3 separate regions of the Homo sapiens genome follow, and all the other regions are reported to be linked to region 1. The links are microRNA targets in miRTarBase. Many come from high-throughput screens and were not tested one by one. Region 1 holds a microRNA gene; each other region holds the end of a gene's coding sequence.
The links. Region 1 holds the annotated microRNA hsa-miR-6884-3p (CCCAUCACCUUUCCGUCUCCCCU, at 2,737-2,759, opposite strand). A microRNA usually pairs through its seed, bases 2 to 8, with sites in the 3' UTR of a target mRNA and lowers its output. Matches are read on the target gene's strand: a 7mer-m8 pairs with bases 2 to 8, a 7mer-A1 pairs with bases 2 to 7 and ends in A, and an 8mer does both.

Region 1 (4,065 bases):
GACACAAAGCCTATAAATAGGGACTGGGGAGGGACTTTCCTCCCCCTGGCCATTCCAGCCAGATATTCACATTTTCTTTTATTCTCCAACTTCCCCCATCCCCCAGGCCTGGGCCCTGCCAACCTGCCACATAAATAAACACAATCACTTCCCCCTAGGCTGAGTGCTTGGGGGTCCCCGCCCAGCCCTGGCCTCCTCCCAAAGTAAACTGTTCCTTCCAGGAGAGGCCCAAGGGCTGCCCCACAGGACTCTTCCCGGCCCCTGGTAGCTGGGCAGATAGAAGTGTATATCCAGGAATTTTCTCATGGAAAGAGGCTTCGGAAGTGAATACAGACCCGGGCCGAGTGCTGACTGTTCCTGGAATGCAGGGTGGCTCTGGGAAAGTTGCTATGACCTTTAGAGCCACTTTTCCCACCTGCACAATGGAGCCACAGACTTCTCACTACCCCTTACCCAGATAGGATTTAGGGTGCTTAGAATGGGTTACACCAGAGCAAAAGCTCCCTACTTGGTAGGGCGGGGGGGAAGGTGGTGGAGAAATGAGAGAAGAAAGGAAAAAAGGAGGAGGCAAGGGGAAAACGAGATGTGCTTTTCCAGACCGTCCAAACCTCATTCAGCTCAATGCTTCCCCTTCTCCCTATTAAGACATCCTCAGGCCCGGTGCGGTGGCTCATGCCTATAATCCCAGCACTTCAGGAGGCTGAGGCGGGAAGATCACCTGAAATCAGGAGTTCGAGACCAGCCTGGCCAACATGGTGAAACCCCATCTCTACCAAAAATACAAAAATTAGCCGGGTGTGGTGGCACATGCCTGTAATCCCGGCTACTCGGGAGGCTGAGGCAGGAGAATCTCTTGAACCCAGGAGGCGGAGATTGCAGTGAGCCTAGATAGTGCCACAGCACTCCAGCCTGGGTGACAGAGCGAAACGCCGTCTCAAAAATAAGTACATAAATAAATAAATAAAGACATCCTCAACGTTGCCATAAAGACATGGCAACACCCAAAACGTATTAGCTGGTAAACACCCATGTTCACAGCAGCACTATTCACTATAGCCCAAAGGTGGAAGCAACTGAAGTGTCCACTGACAGAGGAGGGATCAAGATGTGGTATAGCCACACAATAGAGGTTTCTTTTGTTTTTGTTTTGTTTTTTGAGACAGAGTCTCACTCTTTCACCCAGGCTGGAGTGCAGTGGCGTGATCTCGGCTCACTGCAACCTCCGCTTCCTGGGTTCAAGCAATTCTCCTGTCTCAGCCTCCCAAGTAGCTGGGATTGCAGGCGCCTGCCACCACTCCCTGCTCATTTTTATATTTTTAGTAAGGCCAAGGTTTCACCATGTTGGTCAGGCTGGCCTTAAACTCCTGACCTCAAGTGAGCCACTCACCTCAGCCTCCCAAAGTGCTAGGATTGCAGGCGTGAGCCACCACGCCCGGCCCACAACAGAGTATTATTCAGCCTTAAAAAGGAAGGAATTCCTGTCACGTGCTACTACATGGATGAGCTTTGAGGACACCATGCTGAGTGAAGTCAGTGAGTCACGAAAAGGCAAGGACTGTATGATTCCAGTTAAATGAGGCATCTAAAAAGTAGTCAAATTCAGCAGGGCACGGTGGGTCACGCCTGTAATCCCAGCACTTTGGGAGACCACGGTGAGAGGATCACTCAAGGCCAGGAGTTCAAGACCTGGCAATATAGTGAGACCCTGTCTCTACAAAGACTAGAAAAATTAGCCGGCTGTGGGCCTGCAGTCCCAGCTACTCGGGAGGCTGAGGCGAGAGGATCACTTGAGCCCAGGAATTTGAGGTTGCAGTGAGACTCACTCTGATCTGGGCAAGGGTAAGACCTTGTCTCAACAACAACAACAACAAAAAGTATAAAGTAGTCAAATTCCTAGACACACAAAGTAAAATGGTAGTTACCAGGAGCTGGAGGGAGGGGAAAATAGGAAGCTGTTGTTCAGTGGGTATGGAGTTTCAGAGATGCAAGAAAGTTCTGGAGACCTGTTACACAACAGTGTGAATATACTTAACACTACTGAACAGTACACTTAAACATGGCTAAGATGGCAAATCTTATGTGTTTTTTACAATTAAAAAAAGCAAACAACTTATTGGTTGGGTGAATGAACTCAACGTAACTGGTCACCAGGGAAGTCCTCCAAGCCCCTGAAGAGCCAGGGCAGGAAACTGTCCTAAGAGGTAACTGAGGGTGGGGCATGGCCTGTAAAATCTACAGACAGGTTCCTAGCTCCTAGACAGTCACACAGCTTTGTTCTTTTGGGAGCTAGTTGTCTAGAACTTGAGTCTCTGCGGGCAGACCCTGTTTAGGGTCTGCATTTCTGACAACACAGCAGGTGCTGGCATATAAACGCTTCTGCCACAGAGACACAGTACATGTTTGCTGAGTCAGATGAGTGAATGCATGAATAGGAAAGTGAGTGAGTGATCAAGTAGCGTGTTTGCGAAGGTCAGAAAAGAGAGGGGTGCTTGTTATTGGATGTGCTGACTTCTCACAACACACTTGAAGGGTCTGAGAAGGGAAGGCAGGTTACCGACCTCTCATTGTAGAACTGCAGGGTGTTCTCACTAAACAGTGGCCCTGCCAGCTGGCGGATCATCTGCAGCGACTTCTCACGCTCATCCAGCCCCAGCATCCGGACGTGGGCCACAAGCCAAGCCACAGCACACACCGCCAGACTGCATACCTTCCCTTTGATGTTATCAGTGATTTTCTAGGGGAGACGGAAAGGTGATGGGCTACCATCTATCTCCCTTTCTTGAGCCAACATCACCTTCTCAGCCTCTGCGGGCAGCTAAGTGCAGCGGGTGGAGTCCCGGGCCACATTCCACACCTCTCTCCACAAGTTTGATCTTCCCAGAGCTACCTGGGCCAGAGGGAGTAGCTAAGACAACGATTACACAAAATATCAATATCAAAACATGAGCTCCTGGATTAAAGGTCTTCTTGCCCTTACGAAATATAACAAGTCATCACTGGCTGGCTCTGTGTCTCAGGGGAGCAAACGCTGCTGGGAAGGCGGGGCTACCTGGATGGACTCGAAGGCCAGGACCCCATTCTCCCAGGCATTGAGGATTTCCAAGATGGCGGCTGAGATGCTGAGACAGGCCTCATGCCACTTCATCTGCCTGCGGGTGTGCAGAGAAGTCAGCACAGGGGAGCAAGGAACGGGCTCAGGGAGCGGGTCTTGACCCTGCCCCCACCGCCACCCTTGGAGTGGGCGCCCGGGCCACTGACACTAGCTTCATCTCCGAGGAGTTGTTGAGCAGGGCCACCAGGGACTCCACTTTGGTGGAGTCGGGGCGGAAGCAGGGGTGGTCAGGGTTCAGGATCTTGCCCTCCTCAGGCATGCAGGTCTGCATCCAGGTCTCGAAGAAGGGCACCTCAGCTCCTGTGCGCGACTCGGACAGAATCACCTGGGAAAGGGGAAGGGGGGCACCAGCCGAGTGGGGAGGGCGCGGCGCCTGCCAGCGCTGGACCTGGGGCTGCACTGTTTCCCGCCAGGCTGCTGCTCCAGCCCAGCCCAAAGACTGGGGACGAACTGGTCTAAGGGAGCCAGACGGGGGCAATGCTGCCACCTAGTGGTCAATGTGAACATAGGGCTGAAGGTGCCTCTACGGACTCCAGCCCGGGTGGGCACCTGGTTTCTGAGGCCCACAGAACTAACTGGCTGAGAGGCTGCGGGGGCGCAGGCAGTGAGGTGGGGAGAGTTCCGGGTTACCTCCTTCCCTTGAGCCCCCGTCCCGGTCGCTCCCCTCTCTCACCTCTGAACCATAGGTCTGGGCCACATGGCACAGCATGAGGAAGGAGATGTCAAACAGCAGGGCCCGGACGGAGGCCGGTTTGGCTGTGGAAGGACGGGAAGGCTGAGCTCCCAGACGAGGGCAGGGGGGAGCCCGTGTCTGGGTTGACAGGGATCGGGATTTGCCTCTAGGAAGGTCAGGGACCAAGTGGCTCCTTCAAAGCTCTGAGGCTCAGAATCCTTTTCTTGAGTCTCAACTGGAACATCATCCCTTCCTTGAGACCAAAGACCCCCAGCACCCT
Region 2 (4,065 bases), not on the chromosome of region 1:
GTGGACACCTGTAATCCCAGCTACTTGGGAGGCTGAGGCAGGAGAATTGCTTGAACCCAGGAGACAGAGGTTGCAGTGAGCCGAGATCACGCCACTGCACTCCAGCCTCAGCGACAGAGTGAGACTCTGTCTCCAAAACAAAACAAAACAAAACAAAAAACCCCCCAAAACCAGAAATTGATTAAGGGCCAGGCACGGTGGCTCACTGTGCCCGGCTTACAGGTGTAAGGCTCCACACACGGCCTAATATGGGTTTTGCCAAATGCGTAGTGCCAGGTATTCATCATTACAGTATTATACAGAAGAGTTTCACCACCCTAAAGATCCCTGTCCCTCTGCCCACTTTTTCCTCCATCCAGCTTCTGGGAGCCAGAGGAACCCAATAACATCCACGATGAGGACTGTGCTACCATGAACAAAGGTGGCACCTGGAATGATCTCTCTTGCTACAAAACTACGTATTGGATTTGTGAGCGGAAATGTTCCTGTTGAAGCCCAGGGCCGAGGCTGGGGGTCCATATCTGAGTGTCTCTTTGAGATGAGAATCTCCTGCCCTTTCGTGGACGGCCTTGCCTCTTCGTGAGTGGACACACAGATGTGCCTCAAACAGGATTGGCACCCTGGATGCAGCAAGTTCCCAGGGGTGCAAGTCAGGCTGTTTCTAGAGTGAGGACTTGGGCTTGCCCTAGTAGATGGTGAGCTGGGAGGATGCTCAGAGCTTGGTGGTGGGAGGTCTCCCACTTCTGGGGTTGAAAGGATCTTCACTAAGTTCCTGATCATGACTCTTGGGAAGTGATACTAGCCCTGAGGACCCTGGGGCTGGTGTTGAACCTGGGATGAAATATCCTGGCGCCTGTGAACCACAAAGAGCTGGGACTGGGCTCCTTTTCCTGCAGCCTCAAACTTCTGGGCTCAGGTGATCCTCCCATCTCAGCCTCCTGAGTAGCTGGGACTACACATGCGCACCACCATGCCTGGCCAATTTTTTGTAGCATTTAAAGAGAGGGAGTCTCACTATGTTGCCCAGGCCAGTCTCAAACTCCTTGCCTCAATGGATCCTCCTACTTGGGCTTCCCAAATTGTGAGGATTACAGGTGTGAGCCACTGTGCCTGGCTCAAAATTATTATTATTATTTTTATAGAGATGAGGTCTCACTCTGTTGCCGAGGCTGGTCTCAAACTCCTGGGGTCAAGCAATCCTTCCGTGATGGCCTCCCAAAGTGCTGGGATTACAGGCATGTGTCACCGTACCTGGCCGATATTTTTATTTTTATTTTTACTTTCCCCATCTTTTCCTTTTTTTTTTTTTTCCAAACAAAAGCTTTGAAAGTGGTGACAGAAAAATTTCCCTTTGAGCTAGACCTCTAGATCTGCCTCGCACAGAAATACATTAAGTGGGCTGGTCTCATGTAGTCCCCACATCATTGCAAATTACAAACCTAAAAATACAGAACATCAGCGGAGAAGACAGGAGAGCTTCTATATTCACCCCATGTCGTCCTCTCCAGACACTGCTTCCTTCCTGGTCTCAAACAGCACAAATAACCCAGAAACCATCAAAATTATTTTTGACCAGCAACTTTCTCAATGTCTTGGGTGAGGTTTGCACAAGCTAAGTGGCAGAATCAGACTTTTGCCAGAAGACTTGGCCCGTGGAACTTCTATCCTTTTTTTTTTTTTTTTTTTTTTTTGAGATAGGGTTTCATTCTACTACCCAGGCTGGAGTGCAGTGGCACAATCATAGCTTACTGCACCCTCTGCCTCCTGGGCTCGAGTGATCCTCCTGCCTCAGCCTCCCAAGTAGCTGGGACTACAGGCGTTCACCCTCACACCTGGCTGGCCCATGGAACTTCTAGAAAGGCATACCAGCTGAAAAGCAAGACCCCTACATAGTGTGGCCAGGCAGGCCATAACCTGGTCATATCCACACAGGACAACGATGGACCTATCTGCCAGCACGTGCCCTTGAGCTATCTGTGGGTTGTAACGTCTTTGATGATATAATTCACTTTACTTGCCAGGCACAGTGGCTCACGCCTGTAATCCCAGCACTCTGGGAGACTGAGGTGGGCTGATCACCTGGGGTCAGGATTTCGAGACCAGCCTGGCCAACATGGTAAAATCCTATCTCTACTAAAAATACAAAAAAATTAGCTGGGCGTGGTGGCATGTGCCTGTAATCCCAGCTACTCAGGAGACTAAGGCACGAGAATTGCTTGAACCCAGGAGGCGGAGGTTGCAGTGAGCCGAGATTGTGCCACTGCACTCCAGCCTGGGTGACAGAGCAAGACTCCATCTCAAATAAATAAATAAAAATAAAAATTCACTTTACTTCTGTGTGGACTTTCCTGGGCTATTAGCTCTTGCAATGTTAGTGCTTCTCAAAATGCCACTATGTTGGGTGTTCCTTGTCTACTGTGTGTTAGTTTGCTGGGGCTGCCATAACAAAGGACTGGGTGGCTTCAGCAACAGAATGCATTTTCTCACAGTTCCGGAGGCTGGATGTCCAAGATCAAGGTGTTGGCAGGGTTAATTTCTTCTGAGGCCTCCTGTCTTGGCTTGTAGATGATCCTCTTCTCCCTGTGTCTTCACCTGGTTCTCCTTCTGTGTGTCTGGGTCCTAATCTCCTCCTCCTCTTCTTTTGTTTTTGAGACAGGGTCTCGCTCTGTCACTCAGGCTGGAGTGCAGTGGTGTGATCTCAGCTCACTGCAACTTCCACCTCCCAGGCTTAAGCATCCTCCCGCCTCAGCCTCCTGAGTAGCTGGGATTACAGGTGTGCACCACCGTGCCTGGTTAATTCTTGTATTTTTTGTAGCAACGGGGTTTCACCATGTTGCCCAGACTGGTTTTGAACTCCTAGGCTCAAGCAATCTGCCCACCTTGGTCCCCCAAAGTGCTGGGATTACAGGCATGAGCCACTGTGCTGGGCCTACAACGACCACTTTAAAGATCCTGTCTCCAAATACAGCCATATTAGGAGGTCCTGGGAATTAGAATTTAAACATATGCATTTGGGAGGGGTGGCACAATTTGGCCCATAACATTCACAAACTGCCAGAGTGACCCCCACCCGACCCTCCTGCCCTGGCCATGTGACAACCAAAAAATACCAATTAGAGGGCTGGTACTACTCCCAGCTAGGCATAACTCAACATAGTATTCCCTTTGGACAATCCCTGAATTGCATCCAAGGGTGGGTAGACATTCTCCAAACCAATCAATTTATTTTTTTTTTTTTTGTGACAGAGTCTTGCTCTGTTGCCCAGGCTGGAGTGCAGCGGCGTGATCTCGGCTCACTGCAACCTCTGCTTTCCAGGTTTAACTGGTTCTTCTGCCTCAGCCTCCTGAATAGCTGGGATTTCAGGCACGTGCCACCATGCCTGGCTAATTTTTGTATTTTTAGTAGAGACAGGGCTTTGCCATGTTGGCCAGGCTGGTCTCGAACTCCTGACCTCAAGTGATCCGCCCACCTCAGCCCCCTAAAGTGCTAAGATTACAGGCGTGAGCCACCATGCCTGGCCTTATTTTATTTTTTGAGACAAGGTCTCACTCTGTCGCCCAGGCTGGAGTGCAGTGTTGTAATCATAGCTCACTGAAGCCTCAAACACCTGAGCTCAAGAAATCCTCCGTCCTCAGACTCCTGTATAACTAGAACTACAGGTGTGCCCCCACCACACCCAGCTAATTTTAATTTTTTTTTTTTTTTGTATAGACAGGGGTCTTGCTTTGTTGCCCAGACTGGGCTTAAACTCCTGGTCTCAAACAATCCTCCTGCTTCAGCCTCCTAAAATACAAGGATTGCGATCAATTTATTGATCAATAAGCTCCCTTAATCAATAGCAGAATCTTTCCTGTTTTGTCTGAGAACAGGTGCTTATAGCAAGGAGACTGTGAGGAGAGCAGGTGGTGGGAGAGGTCGGAGCTGATTTCACTTCCTGTTTCTTTGATTTGTTTTAAATCTACTTGTTCTTTTATTTCGTTATTAAAAAAATTTTTTTTGAGATGGAGTGTCACTCTGTCACCCAGGCTGGAGTACAGTGGCATGATCTCGGCTCACTGCAACCT
Region 3 (4,065 bases), not on the chromosome of region 1:
TGGCAGGTGCCTGTAATCCCAGCTACTCGGGAGGCTGAGGCAGGAGAATCACTTGAACCCAGGAGGTGGAGGTTGCAGTGAGCTGAGATTGCGCCACTGCACTCCGGCCTAGGCGACAAGAGCGAGATTCCATCTCAAAAAAAAAAAAAAAAAAAAAAAAGGAAAAAAAGAAACTTGAAGATGAAACTAGGTAAGAGCGCTGCTTGGGTGAGTCCTGTGTGACCCATGGGAGAGCAGCTACCCTGTGTGGCTCCATGTTCTAATGCTGAAGACCCAGCATGAGACAGACGTTGTGCCAGTGCCCCCAGGGTTCAGGGTTCAGCAGTAACATGGAAATGGAGCCTCACAGTGTAAGGGACTTGGAAGTATCACTAGGGCTTGAGGGAGCACAGAGGAGTCACCTGTCAGAGTGGAAGGGGGGCTAGAAAAGCTTCTTGGGGAGAAGGTGATCCCTGAACGATGACATAAACCAACTGGAGTTTTCCAGGTAAAGAAGTGGCAAAGAGGCCGGGCACGGTGGCTCATGCCTGTAATCCTAGCACTTTGGGAGGCCGAGGCAGGTGGATCACGAGGTCAGGAGCTCCAGACCATCCTGGCTAACACGGTGAAACCCTGTCTCTACTAAAAATACAAAAAATCAGCCGGGTGTGGTGGTGGGAGCAGGTGGCAGGCGCCTGTAGTCCCAGCTACACGGGAGGCTGAGGCAGGAGAATGGCATGAACCCAGAAGGCGGAGCTTGCAGTGAGCCGAGATCATGCCACTGCACTCCATCCTGGGCGACAGAGCAAGGCTCTGTCTCAAAAAAATAAATAAATAAGAAAAAAAAAAAAAAAAAGAAGTGGCAAAGATTTCCAGGCGGAGAGTTTAGTGTGTTGAACTAAACCCTGCTATTCTGGAGCATTTAAGACAGATTAGTATGGCTGGAGGTTGGGTTCCTGGGGGCTAAACCCTGAAGGGTCTTGAATTCCAAACTGTGGGGCTTGGGTGATTTTATAGGCTAGAGGCTGGAAACTGGCAGCTGCAAGGCCGAATATGACCACTAACACATTTTTGTTTAGTCTGTGCATTTTTTAAAAAGTTTGACTTGACTGCCAACATTGGGAAATCAAAAGATTTTACATAATGTGAACTAATGGAACTTCTGAAAGAAACTGGAAGATGTGGCAACCCAATCTGTGTTCCGGAGCTGAGCAGCCATTACCCTCTTCTGAAGAGGCACTCTCCAATTTGTTGAATACCAATTCTGAGACCTGGTGGCAATCGCCATTATTTCATGTTGCTGATATTTTCCCCTTGAACCTGGCCGTCTTGCTCGTGTATTTACATTTTCACCCAGCTCCTGTAGGCATTCACATTTCCAAATCGTCTCAAAGCCACAAGGAGCTGTGTCTTGGTGACAAGGATCTGCATGGATGCCATATGGAGAATGAAGAGGGCAGGTGGCCGGGTGCAGTGGCTCACGCCTGTAATCCCAACACTTTGGGAGGCCGAGGCGAGTAGATCACCTGAGGTAAGGAATTTGAGACCAGCCTGGCCAACATGATGAAACCCCATCTCTACTAAAAATACAAAAATGAACTGAGCGTGATGGCGCCCACCTGTAATCCTAGCTACTCAGGAGGCTGAGGCAGAAGTGCTTGAATCCAGGAGGCAGAGGTTGCAGTGAGCAGAGATTGTGCCATTGGACTCCAGCCTGGGCAACAAGAGCAAAACTCCATCTCAAAAAAAAAAAAAAAAAAAAAAAAAAAAAAAAAAAAAAAAAAAAATGCAGGCACTGGACTGCTGTGCAGTTGTCTGTGTGTGAGACCACTGTTGGTCTACAAGTGTAGTGATGCCGAAAACACGTTCCAGTTCCAAAGATATTAACTGGCTCAACTGAGGGAAACTGATAAGGGACTGGACATAAGAATGAGGATGAAGAAGGTTTAAACCTGCCCAGGTATCCAGCTTGGGTGGTGGTGCCAATGACATCAGAAGCATGGAGGTTTCTTTGAGGAAAATGGAATGAGTTCTGTTCACATTGTGAGTTGCCTGTGAGTTATCTCATGGGGCCCACTGGGTGAACAGAAAGGTGTGCAAATCAGAGGCTCTCACTCAACAAGCATGCAAAGCATGTTGAGTGTGCTTTTGCCAAACTTCCCTGACCCCCCTCTCCTACAGCTGAACCACATAACACGTAACCACAGTGGGGCCTACTCACCCCCCATTCTGATGATGGGGAAACAGAAGCTTGGAGGAAGAGATGATGCAACTGACTGCTGGTGGCAAAACCATGGTGAGGCCCCTCCTCCCCCAACTCCCCAAAGCGGACAATCCGAATACAAGACCGACAGAGAAGCCCTTCAGAAGGTCCTTTAATAGGAACAGAACTGAAGGTGTCACACCTCCAGCTCCCAAGTCCTCCTCTCGCCCCCACCACAGTGACTCTTTCACTCCACACCCAGGCCAGCCCACCATGCTGCCATCAGCCAGCCCGCCCTTGGGATTGGCGGGGACTAGGCAGTAAGCTGTTTGCTTCGAACTGGGAGTGGAGGAAATTAGAGAAACCTGAGGCTACCTTGAGGCTTGTGGGGGACCCTGGGCTCTGAGTCTAAAGCTTTAGGAGGGGGATGCTAGGTAGCTGCTTGCTTTATGTGTTCTCAGTTGCCTCCGAAGAAGAGTGGATGGGTTAAGGACGGACCACAATGGGGGTGGGGGTTGCCGCTGTTGGAGTCAAGATCCTATGGTCAGGCTTACATCCTTGAGGCTCAAGTGCTCTCAGCGGTGACTTGGGGACCCTCTGGCTTTGAGGTGATGGGATCCCAGAGTCTCTTCACAGATAACCTGGTGAGTGTCTTCTGCCAGAGGGTGGATAGGCATCCCAGGTCCAGTGCAATGCAGTGAGGTAGGCAGGAGACTCCATCCTGGTCCACCCGTGGAGGACCAGAGCAGAAGACTATGGTGGACCCCAATTCCCCCCTTCCATTCGATCCTGGCTCCTCCTCTGAAGTGCCCAGGCTCTGTCGTGACAGGCTGGGTCTTGCACAAGGACAAGCCAACCAAGAGACAGTCGGGGAAGTGACATCCAGCCCGTGGGCCTTGCCTTTGGCCGCACACCCGCAGAGCTGCAAGAGCTGCACCTGTCCTCTCCTAGGCCTGGCAGAGGTGCTGTGTGGGCGTGTGGGAGTCTGGAGCCTGGCCCTCTCCCTCTGCTCTCCATCACTAGCGGCTCACAACCATCCCTGCAGCTGTCATCTCTCCCCCAATCTCCCCTCTTCTGTCCCCTGCCTCCGTTTCCCCACCCCGTCCCCCTCCCCGGGTCGGCCTCGTACCTCCGCCTTAACTAACCCATGTCCCTGGTCTGCAGCCTACTGGTCGGCCTCCACCTTCACCTTCGCGGTCTCCCCCCGCCCCTCCTCCGCAGGGTCCCCTACCCCACACCCGCTCCCCGACCCCTCAGCCGCCGACGAGCCCAGCTGGCCTCCAGAGTCTCCCAGCCCCGGCCCCGGCCCGTGGAAGTGGGTGCGCTGGTGCTTGCGGAAGTTGGAGGAGTTGTTGAAGGTGCGGTCGCAGAGCGTGCAGCGGAACGGGCGCTCGCCAGTGTGGATGCGGGCGTGGCCGCTAAGCACCGAGGACTGGGTGAAGCCCTTGCCGCAGATGCCGCAATGGTATGGCCGCTCGCCAGTGTGCACGCGCTCGTGGTCTCGCATGTCTGAGGAGCGGCGGAAGGGCTTGGCGCAGAACCTGCAGGCAAAAGGCTTCCCCACCGCTGCGCCCGCCGCCGCCGCCGCCATCACCACCTCCGCCCTCTCCGGGGCCACCCCGGGCCTCTGTTCTGCAACGGCCGCTGTGTCCGGAGGCCTCCGAGAGGTGCCCGGCTCCACCCCGTGCCGGTGCTGGTGCCGGAGCAGGGGCGCCAAGGCCTTGAAGGCGCGGGGGCAGAGCGCGCAGCGGTAGGGCCGCTCCCCCGTGTGCAAGCTGTAGTGCGCGCGCAGGCTGGCGGGGCCCGGGCAGCTGTGGCCGCACACGTGGCACCGGCTCGGGTCCCCACCCTGCCCGCCTCCCTCGGCCCCAGCCAAGTGGCCA

Region 2: miRTarBase lists CLEC17A as a target of hsa-miR-6884-3p. Seed matches in the 3' UTR shown: 7mer-m8 at 1,205-1,211.
Region 3: miRTarBase lists ZNF784 as a target of hsa-miR-6884-3p. Seed matches in the 3' UTR shown: 8mer at 3,195-3,202.

Annotation. Positions count from the first base shown.
Region 1 is chr17:40,023,598-40,027,662 of GRCh38, forward strand. MIR6884 (microRNA 6884) reads right to left here and starts at 2,812; the gene lies at 2,735-2,812. MED24 (mediator complex subunit 24) reads right to left here. Exons shown (of 26, transcript NM_014815.4): 16 at 3,786-3,868; 17 at 3,259-3,437; 18 at 3,050-3,149; 19 at 2,559-2,734. SNORD124 (small nucleolar RNA, C/D box 124) reads right to left here and starts at 4,048; the gene lies at 3,945-4,048. RefSeq lists an enhancer at 3,050-3,960.
Region 2 is chr19:14,609,705-14,613,769 of GRCh38, forward strand. It overlaps CLEC17A (C-type lectin domain containing 17A), which reads left to right. Exons shown (of 14, transcript NM_001204118.2): 14 at 360-2,331. The coding sequence ends at 492. It also overlaps a transcript of ADGRE3 not described here. Among named protein-coding and RNA genes, the nearest start is that of SNORA104, 10 kb to the right of the region's middle.
Region 3 is chr19:55,618,404-55,622,468 of GRCh38, forward strand. It overlaps ZNF784 (zinc finger protein 784), which reads right to left. Exons shown (of 2, transcript NM_203374.2): 2 at 2,338-4,065. The coding sequence ends at 3,348. Among named protein-coding and RNA genes, the nearest start is that of ZNF784, 4.1 kb to the right of the region's middle.